Linked DNA regions of Homo sapiens: region 1 is linked to region 2. The links come from fine-mapping of genetic effects on gene expression. A gene starts in region 2. The other region holds a variant in brackets. All regions are shown on one strand. Distances are from middle to middle.

Region 1 (5,369 bases), 29 kb before region 2:
TCCCAAAGTGCTGGGATTACAGGCATGAGCCTGTATTTTTTAATGGTTACTTTTTTTCCAGAACACTAAAGCAGTTGAAAGTATTCAAGGATTGAAAAGATGTTGTATTCAAACTCACAATGTCATGTGTCTTTTTACAATGTTATTATTAAGTTTCTTTATGTCCAAATAGACTTTATTATAATTTTACTGTCCTAGTTTTAGTAGAAGCAAATCCTACTAAATCATCAGTCATATTTTCAAAATCTACTTCTGGAAAAAATCAACCACTAAAAATGCATACAGATATATAAAGGTGCTGGGCCGGGCGCGGTGGCTCACGCCGGTAATCCCAGCACTTTGGGAGGCCAAGGCAGGTGGATCACGAGATCAAGAGATCGAGACCAGCCTTGCCAACATGGTGAAACCCCATCTCTACTAAAAATACAAAAATTAGCTGGGTGTGGTGGCACGCACCTGTAGTCCCAGCTACTCAGGAGGCTGAGGCAGGAGAATCGCTTGAACCCGGGAGGCGGAGGTTGCAGTGAGCCGAGACGTGCCACTGCACTCCAGCCTGGCAACACAGCAAGACTCCATCTCAAAAAAAACAAAAAGAAAAGAAAAGAAAAAAGAAAATTAGATGGGCACAGTGGCACACACCTGTAGTCCCAGCTACTCTGGAGGATGAGGCAGGAGAATCGCTTGAACTGGAAAGGAGGAGGTTGCAGTGAGCCGAGACTGCACCACTGCACTCCAGCCTGGACAACAAATTGAGACAGTCTCAAAAAAATAGAAAGATATGTAAAGATGCTTAAATATTTGGTATATGTACACATGCACACATTTTTCCTTTTGCCTGAGGCTCTCAGGGGAAGGTTGGATGCTGTCTTTATTTGGGACTTTAAAATTTTGTTCAATGCAGATTTTTTGTACTCATGTCAATTTTTAAAAAAATATTGCATTAGGACCAGGTGCAGTGGCTCATGCCTGTAATCCTAGCACTTTGAAAGGCCAAGATGGGAGGATTGCTTGAGGCTAGGAGTTCAAGACCAGACTGGCCAACATAGTGAGACCCCCATCTCTACTAATAATACAAAAAATAAAAATTAGCTGGGCCGTGGTGGTGCATGCCTATAATCCCGGCTACTCGGGAGGCTGAGGCAGGAGAATTGCTTGAACCTGGCAGGTAGAGGTTGCAGTGAGCAGAGATCATGCCACTGCACTCCAGCTTGGGCAACAGAGCAAGACTCTCAAATACATACATATTGCATTAGTGAGGGTGGCTAGCGTGGCTAGGAGGGATATCACGAGGGAGTCTTTGGTGTCGCTTAAGTGTCTTGTTTGTGCAGTGGCTTACACCTGTCATCCCAGCACTTTGGGAGGCCGAAGCAGGAAGATCCGTTGAGCCCAGGAGTTCGAGACCATTCTGGGCAACATGGCAAGACCCCCCCACCATATCTACAAATATATATATAAGAAAATTAGCCGGGCGTGCTGGCTCACTCCTGCAATCCCAGCACTTTGGGAGGCCGAGGTGGGCGGATCACGAGGTCAGGAGATTGAGACCATCCTGGCTAACACGGTGAAACCCGTCTCTACTAAAAATACAAAAAATTAGCCGGGCGTGGTGGCGGGCGCCTGTAGTCCCAGCTACTCGGGAGGCTGAGGCAGGAGAATGGCGTGAACTTGGGAGGCGGAGCTTGCAGTGAGCCGAGATCGCACCACTGCACTCCAGCCTGGGCGACAGAGCCAGACCCCGTCTCAAAAAAAAAAGAAAGAAAGAAAATTAGCCACATGTGGTGACGTGCATGTGTCTGTAGTCCCAGCTACTCAGTTACTCGGGGGGCGCTGAGGTGGGAGGATCACTTGAGCCCAAGAGATTGAGGCTGCAGTGAGCTGTGTTCACACCACTGCACCATTCCAGCCTGGGCGACGGAGCAAGACCCTGACCAAAAAAAAAAAAAAAAAGTATCTCGTGACGGTGTTTAGAGGAAGTTATGCGTGTGATAAAACTGCATAAACCACACACACACTCACACACTCAGATGAGTGCATGCAAATCCAGTGAAGCTTGCATCCTTCCACTGTGCTGGTTTTGAGGTTATACTGCAGTTATGCAAGATGTAAACATAGCTGGGGGGCTGGGTGCAGGGTGCATCAGACCTCCTTGTACCTTCCCGTGAATCAATAATTATTAATAAATAAAACGTTTTAAAAATTGCAATGAAGGCCAGGCACGGTGTCTCATGCCTGTAATCCCAGCGCTTTGGGAGGCCAAGGCAGGTGGATCACCTGAGGTCAGAAGTTTGAGACCAGCCTGGCCAACATGGTGAAACCCCATCTCTATTAAAACCACAAAAATTAGCCGGGCATGGTTGTGGGCGTCTGTAATCCCAGCTACTCGGGAGGCTGGGGCAGGAGAATTGTTTGAAGCCGAGATCACACCACTGCACTCCAGCCTGGGCGACAGAGCAAGACTCCGTCTCAAAAAAAAAATAATTTTTAAAAGAGGGTGTCTCAAAACCCATGGTCACTTGGAGAAATAGAGGAGGGGGTCCCAGGCAGGTGCTATGCTCCCTGCAGCTGCAGCTGGGATCCCACCATCTTCACATCTGACCTGGAGGACATATCACTAACCACGGCCCTCTCCCGCCTCCTGGGATCCTGGCAAGCCAGACTCCAACCATACATTCACATTACACAGATAGGGAAGCTGAGGTCCTGTGGGTTCCTGC[C/T]TTTGTAAAATAGGGCTCTTAGTGCCTGTCCGACCTCCTCAGCCAGCTGCGGTAAGTACACGGTACAGCGGGGCCCTCGAGGTCTCTTGAGGGAAATGCTGAAATGTTCCCGTAACCCCCTGGCATCCTTCTCGTGAAAGTCCAAACTCTTCCCACAGCCCACCAGGCACTGTTTGACCCCTGCTGGCGACCTTCAACTTCACTGGCCACCTTCCCTCTCCTCCCTCCACTCCTCCCAGCCAGGCCTCACCTGTTCCTGCTTTGACACCTTTGCTGGTCCCCCTGTCCAGTGCTCCGTCCCAGGTCCCCTTGGAGCTGGCCTCTCCCCCGCTTCCCACATCAGCAAACACGTCAGCTTCTGAGTCAGACCTCAGAAGGCCTGGGACTCCCAGCCACGTCACTTTTGTGATGCAGGTTTATCTTCTGCGTAGGGAGCATGTGTCTGCGATGATTTGATCCACTTCTTCATAGGGAATCATCGTCCCCAGTGGGTTATGCTCTCTGAGCAGGCAGGGGGCTCTGGGGCTGGTGTCTGTCACTGCTGTGTCCCCAGCATCAGGGCAGGACCAGGCATAGAGTGGTGCCTCTTACATACTGGATGAATGAATGAATGAATGAACCAATGAATACGTGAATGAATGATGTCTCAGCTCTTCCTTCCTTCCAGTCTGGTCCTGAACAACGCCTTACCTCTTCAGGTCAGATCCCTGCCCCAGCCTGCTCTGGGTTAGGGGTGAGGGGTGGGGGCTGGGCTGGCAGATGGGACAAGCAGGGAAGGTCCCCTGACATGGTTTGGCTCTCTGTCCCCACCCAAATCTCATGTTGAATTGTAGTCCCGTGTTGGAGGTAGTGCCTGATGGGAGGCGACTGGATCATGACGGTGGATCCTCATGAATGGATCCACCCCTCAGTCCTGTCTCATAATAGAGTTCTCACAAGATCCGGTATGGCACCTCCTCCCCTGTGCTCCTGCTCCGGCCGAGTGACCTGCCTGCTCCCCTCTGCCTTCCCCCATGACCGTAAGTTTCCTGAGGCCTCCCAGAAGCAGCTGCTGCCATGCTTCCTGCACAGGCTGTGGAACTATGAGCCAATTAAACCTCTTTTCTCTATCATTTACCTGTATCAGGTATTTCTTTTCTTTTTGTGGGGCGGCGGGGGGTTGGACAGAGTTTCATTCTCGTCACCCAGGCTGGAGTGTAGTGGCACGATCTCAGCTCACTGCAAGCTCCGCCTCCCGGGTTCAAGTGATCCTCCTGCCTCAGCCTCCCTAGTAGTTGGGATTACAGACTCCCGCCACCACGCCCAGCTAATTTTTTGTATTTTTAGTAGAGACAGGGTTTTGCCATGTGAGCCAGGCTGGTCTCAAACTTCTGGTCTCAGGTAATATGCCCTTCTCGGCCTCCCAAAGTGCTGGGACTACAGGCATGAGCCACCGTGCCCGGCCTGGGTATTTCTTTATAGCATTCCAAGAATGGACTAATACAGTCTCCTCTGCCCCAACGCCACTGGGCCTGCAAGGAAATTGTCCACGTTCACAGAAAGTCCAGCTGGGAGGATGTCCCCAGCTAATGTGCACAGAGTGAATCTGGAAACCAACACCCTAGAAAAAAGCCACATAAAGACATCTCCAAGCAGAGTCCCAGACGGGTCCTGCCTTGCCTCCCCTGCTGCATGTCCTCAACCCACTCCCTCCACCTCCCCACCACCATCCCATCCTTCGCTTCCTACACAGGTCCCCTCCTCCACTCTTCACCCCATCCCTCACTTTCTACACCCACCACCTCCTCCACCCTTCCTCCCATCCCTCACTTCCTCCACCCATCACCTCCTCCATCCTTCATCCCATCCCTCACTTCCTACACCCATCGCCTCCTCCACCCTTCACCCCATACCTCACTTCCTACACCCATCACCTCCTCCACCCTTCACCCCATACCTCACTTCCTACACCCACCACCTCCTCCACCCTTCATCCCATTCCTCACTTCCTACACCCACCACCTCCTCCACCCTTCATCCCATCCCTCACTTCCTACACCCATCACCTCCTCCACCCTTCATCCCATCCGTCACTGTCTACACCGATCACCTCCTCCACCCTTCATCCCATCCCTCACTTCCTACACCCACCACCTCCTCCACCCTTAATGCCATCTCTCACTTCCTACACCCATCACCTCCTCCACCCTTCATCCCATCCATCACTGTCTACACCCATCACCTCCTCCACCCTTCATCCCATCCCTCACTTCCTCCACGCACCACCTCCTCCACCCTTCATCCCATCCCTCACTTCCTACACCCGTCACCTCCTCCACCCTTCATCCCATTCCTCACTTCCTACACCCACCACCTCCTCCACCCTTCATCCCATCCCTCACTTCCTACACCCGTCACCTCCTCCACCCTTCATCCCATCCCTCACTTCCTACACCCACCACCTCCTCCACCCTTCATCCCATCCCTCACTTCCTACACCCGTCACCTCCTCCACCCTTCATCCCATCCCTCACTTCCTACACCCACCACCTCCTCCACCCTTCATCCCATCCCTCACTTCCTACACCCGTCACCTCCTCCACCCTTCATCCCATTCCTCACTTCCTACACCCACCACCTCCTCCACCCTTCATCCCATTCCTCACTTCCTACACC
Region 2 (5,369 bases):
GTGAGACCCTGTAATCGTGTGCAATTAATACTTAATAAACTTCCCTTTATATATATAACTATTCCATTAGTTCTGTCCCTCTAGAGAACCCTGACTAATACACTGTCTCAAAAAAAGAAAAAAGTTCATCAAAATTAAAAAAAATCCAGGCTGGGTGTAGTGGCTCACACCTGCAATCCCAGAACTTTGGGAGGCCGAGGTGGGTGGATCACCTGAGGTCAGGAATTCGAGACCAGCCTGGACAACATGGTGAAACGCCGTCTCTACCAAAAATACAAAAATTAGCCGGCCGTGGTGGCAGGCACCTGTAATCCCAGCTACTCTGGAGGCTGAGGCAAGAGAATCGCTTGAACCCAGGAGGCAGAGGTTGCAGTGAGCCAAGATGGCACCACCGCACTCCAGGCTGGGCAACAAGAGCAAAACTCCATCTCAAAAAAAAAAAAAAAAAAAAACTAAATAAAATACAAAATTCCGCTCCTCAGTCTCCCTGGCCATATTTCAAGCGCTCAGTAGTCACACAAGCCTACTTGACTTCTGTGGTTACCGTATTTGACAGCAAAGGGAACACTCTCATCACTGCAGAACATGCTATTGGATGGTGGTGGTCCATGGCTTCCCCATGCCCCGAAATAAAGTCTAAACTCTGTACCCTGAGGCTGAAGCTCTGCATGACAAGCTCCTGCCTCGCCTCGGCCCTCACTGGTCCTTTCTGTGCCAAGCTTGCTCGTGCCTCAGGACCTCTGCATGGGTTCTCCTCTCTCCACCTGGAACACTGCTCTCTTTCCCCTGACCTTCCAGCGAGGCCTCCTTCTTCTTTCTTGCTTCTCTGCATCCAGGACCCCTCAAAAGGGCCTCCCTCGGTTGGGAGTGGTGGCTCACACCTGTAATCTCAGCACTTTGGGAGGCTGAGGTGGGCAGATCACCTGAGGTCGAGAGTTCGAGACCAGCACCTGAGGTCGAGAGTTCAAGACCAGCCTGGCCAACACAGTGAAACACTGTCTCTACTAAAAATACAAAAATTAGCTGGGTGTGGTAGTGGGCACCTGTAATCCCAGCTACTTGGGAGGCTGAGGCAGGAGAATCACTTGAACCCAGGAGGTGGAGGTTGCAGTGAGCCAAGATCAAGCCATTGCACTCCAGCCTGGGTGACAGAGTAAGACTCTGTCTCAAAAAAAAAAAAAATTAGCTGGGCATGGTGGTACGTGCCTGTAATCCCAGTTACTCGGGAGGCTGAGGCAGGAGAATTGCTTCAACCCAGGAGGTGGAGCTTGCAGTGAGCCGAGATCGCGCCATTGTACTCCAGCCTGGGCTGCAGAGCAAGACTCCGTCTCAAAAAAAAAAAAAAAAAAAAAAAAAGGGCCTCCCTCTCTGCCCCTGGCTGACTCCTGCCCTAAACCATATCCCTGTACCCGCCGGAAGGCCTGCTGCAGAACAGATACTCAAAAACCGCTGGCTGAACACATGGACGAGGGGAAGCGTGTGGCCACTGATAAGGGCCGCATTTTACCTGATGCAATGGGCCAAAGTGAAGTCGGTTTCACCCTGGACCCCAAAATGTCACCGTTCTTAGGAGGAATCTCAGCTCCTCCCCTGTCCTTGAGTTTTCCCCAACTGGGTTTTCTCCCCCACCATCAGCCCCAAGCGCCTCATGGCCCCGCTACCTCACTGCATTCAGGTCTTCGGGTCACTGCTCAGATGTCTCCACTCAGAGCTCTCCCCGCCCCCTTCCCTGGTGTTATTTTCTTTTATTTTGTGCTACAGAGGGAGCTAGGAATTACATTATTTTAAGTCATTTAAAGTCGTCCCTCCCCCCCGGCGGTGAGCTGGGCGGGACCAGGCTGTCTGTCTTGCTCAGGGCCAGCTGCACCCAGCGCAGAGCCACCCAGGCACACAGTAGGCGCCCAATAAAGACCTGTCCGGCATCTGGATACCTCAGTCTGTACAGTGAAGGTGAGGGTGGCCTGCACGCTCTCAAACCGGAGGCTGCTCGGGCCGGGATGAGGAGGGCACGGGCTCATTCATTCAATCAGCACTTATTGAGCGCCTTCTGTGTGCCTCGCGCTACCGGGCACCGGAGACGGGCCTCGGCTAACGTGCGGGTAGAGTCCAACAGACCCCCGGCCGCTCAGCGCCGCCCCGCCCCGCCGCCCCAGGTCCTCTCTCTGCCCGCACCTACCTCCCGGGGGCCCCTCGTCCGCCGACTGGCGCCGCTGCACGCCCAACGGCCGCGCAGTCTCGACCCCACAGACGCGGCCCGGAGAGGCCCCGCTCGGCGCGGCTGGTCCACGCCCCGCCCACGCCCCTGCCCATTGGCCTCCCCGAGACCCGCTGGCAGAACTTTCCATACTATTGGCTGCGAAACCTGCCACTCATATGCGACTCCACCTCTCCTACCGGCACAGGAAAGGGGTTTCCTCCCGCTGAGCGGCGGGCGCAGCCACCAAGCGGCCCCGGCGGGAAACCCGGATTGGCGAGGAACGGTTCCGGCAGGGTTGGGTTTCCAGAGCTGTCCAGGGGCGCCTGGTGCTGAATCCCGCTTGGAAAGAGGCTTGGAGGTGGATGGGAAGGGATTTCCAACGGAGGCGGCTCCTCTCTCAGCGTCCTCGCTGCTGATCCCCTTACCGACGGCTGAAGAAGCAGATTCATCCCTTCAACAAATCTCTGTTGATAGGCAGGAGGAGTAAGTCCAAGAGATCGACTGTACATCATGGTGGCTACAGCTCGTAACAATGCATTGCATACTGCAAAATTGCTAAGAAAGTAGATGTTACATGTTCAAACCATGAAAAAATAAGTATAGGAGGTAACGCGTAAGTTAAAAACCAAATCTTGGCAGGGCGCAGTGGCTCACACTTGTAATCTCAGCACTTTAAGAGACCGAGGCGGGAGGATCGCTTGAGTCCAGGAGTTCAAGGCCAGCCTGGGCAGCATAGTGAGACCCCATCTCTAAAAAAAAAAAAAAGGTTTTTTTTGAGACAGAGTCTCGCTCTTGTCACTCAGGCTGGAGTGCAATGGCGCGATCTTGGCTCACTGCAACTTCCGACTCCCGTGTTCAAGCGATTCTCCTGCCTCAGCCTCCCGAGTAGCTGGGATTATAGGCGTGTGCCACTATGCCGGCTAATTTTTGTGTTTTTAGTAGAGACGGGGTTTCACCATGTTGGCCAGGCTGGTCTTGAACTCCTGACCTCAGGTGATCCTCTTACCTTGGCCTCCCAAAGTGCTGGGATTACAGGCATGAGCCACTGCGCTTGGCCTGATGACTTGATTCTAACAAATAGAAAATGGCAAATGAATGGGATGTCATTCTGCGATTAGGCTATGAGAGATTGTGACTTCTGTTTTGCCAGCAGAGCCTGTCTCTCGCCTTCTCAGCCTACGTGTCTTGACAAAGCAAGCTAAGATGCTGGAGAGATCCAGAGGGAAAGGAACTGAGGGTGTCCTCCAGCCAACAGTCAGCAAGGCAATGAGACCCTCAGCACAAGCGTCCATAAGGAACCAAATGCTACCAACAGCCATGAACGTGATCATGGAAGAGGGTCCTGCCCCAGTTGAGCCTTTGGATGACTGCTTCACTTCAATTGCAGCCTTTGAAACACCCTAAAACAGGGCTGCATGTGGTAGCTCATGCCTATAATCCCAGCACTTTGGAAGGCCGAGGTAGGCAGGTCACTTAAAGTCAGGAGTTTGAGACTAGCCTGGCCAACACGGCAAAACCCCATCTCTACTAAAAATACCAAAATTAGCCAGGCATGGTGGCGGGCACCTGTAGTCCCAGCTACTAAGGAGGCTGAGGCATCAGAATCACTTGGACCCAGGAGGCAGAGGTGACAGCGAGCTGAAATCATTACCATTACACTCCAGCCTGGGCAACAGAGTGAGACCCTGTCTCAAAAGAAAAAAAAAGAAGAAGAAGAAGAAGAAAGAAAGAAAAACAAAGACCCTGAAAACAGAAGACCCATATGAACTGCATCTGAATTCCTCACCCACAGAAACTGAGATAACACATGCTGTTCTAGCCACTTAGTTTTGTGTTTGTTTGCTTGTATTTTGAGACAGGGTCCTGCCCCATCACCCAGGCTGGAGTGCAGTGGTGCAATCACAGCTCACTGCAGCCATGACCTCCTGGGCTCAAGCAGTCCTCCCACCTCAGCCTCCCGAGTAGCTGGGAGCATGTGCCACCATGCCCAGCTAATTTTTTACCTAATGTCACACAGGCCAGTCTTGAACTCCTGGATTCAGGAAACCCTCCCACCTCAGCCTCCCAAAGTGCTGAGATTACAGGCATGAGCCACAATGCCTGCTGGCACTAAGTTTGGGGGAAAATTTGTCATATGGCAGTAGGTAACTAATACACATACATACTAGAAAAACTATAGGTTGTACTAAGTTCTGTGAAGAAAGAATGAGAGAGACTTCTGTGCAGGAATTAGCCAAGTCAAATGTACTGAGAAGGCCAGGTGTGGTGGCTCACACCTATAATCCCAGCACTTTGGGAGGCTGAGGTGGGTGGATCACTTGAGGTCAGGAGTTCAAGACCAGCCTGGCCAACATGGTGAAACCCTGTCTGTACCAAAAATATAAAAATTAGCAGGGCGTGGTGGTGGGCGCCTGTAATCCCAGCTACTCGGGAGGCTGAGGTAGGAGAATCGCTTGAACCTGTGAGGTGGAGGTCGCAGTGAACCGAGATCATGCCACTGCACTCCAGCCTGGGCGACAGAGCAAGACTCCGTCTCAAAAAAAAAAAAAAAAAAGAAAAAAAAGTACTGAGAAGTGGGGAGAGAAGAGAGGATAGTTGACAAAAAGATGGAGAAGGGCTTGCTGCATTTGAGGAGTTGGAAAGCCAGCCTGGCTGAATGTTCGTGAGCAGTAGGGAGATGGGAGATTAGGGACAGTCCCATAGACCGTGCTATGGAACTTGGATTTTACCGTAATTACAGTGTGATTCATTGAAGGATTTTAAGTAGGTGAAGGTTGTCATCTAATTTTAATTCTTAAGATTATTTTGACTCGTGTGTAAAGAAAGGCTGAATTATAGAGAAGCAAGAATGGAAGCAGGGAGACTACTTCAGAGCCCTCTGGGCAAGAGTTGGGCTGGGTGCCTTGGCGCACACCTGTAATCCTAGCACATTGGGAAGCCATTGCAGGAAGATCGCTTGAGCCCAGGAGTTCGAGACCAGCCTGGGCAACATAGTGAGACCCTATCTCTATTTCTAAGAAAAGACTTGACGGTAGTTTAGCTGAGGGCATTGACAGGAGAAAGGACAGTGGGTGAATTTGAGAAATATTTTGGAGGGTGAATTGACAGGACTTAGCACTGGTTTGTCTGTGTGGGTTGCAGGAGAAGGAGGTGTTGGGGGTGACTTCTGGTT

What was found. PIP is the estimated chance that this variant, and not a neighbour inherited with it, causes the effect.
Region 1: its variant is fine-mapped to the expression of SLC39A3 in whole blood (TOPMed, PIP above 0.99).

What each region holds. Positions count from the first base shown.
Region 1 is chr19:2,708,606-2,713,974 of GRCh38, forward strand. No RefSeq gene overlaps it. Among named protein-coding and RNA genes, the nearest start is that of GNG7, 8.6 kb to the left of the region's middle. RefSeq lists an enhancer at 1,886-1,965. The variant C/T (reference allele first, on the strand shown) is at 2,715.
Region 2 is chr19:2,737,769-2,743,137 of GRCh38, forward strand. SLC39A3 (solute carrier family 39 member 3) reads right to left here and starts at 2,249. Exons shown (of 3, transcript NM_144564.5): 1 at 2,177-2,249. RefSeq lists silencers at 1,345-1,612, 2,021-2,420 and enhancers at 1,731-1,780, 2,481-2,530.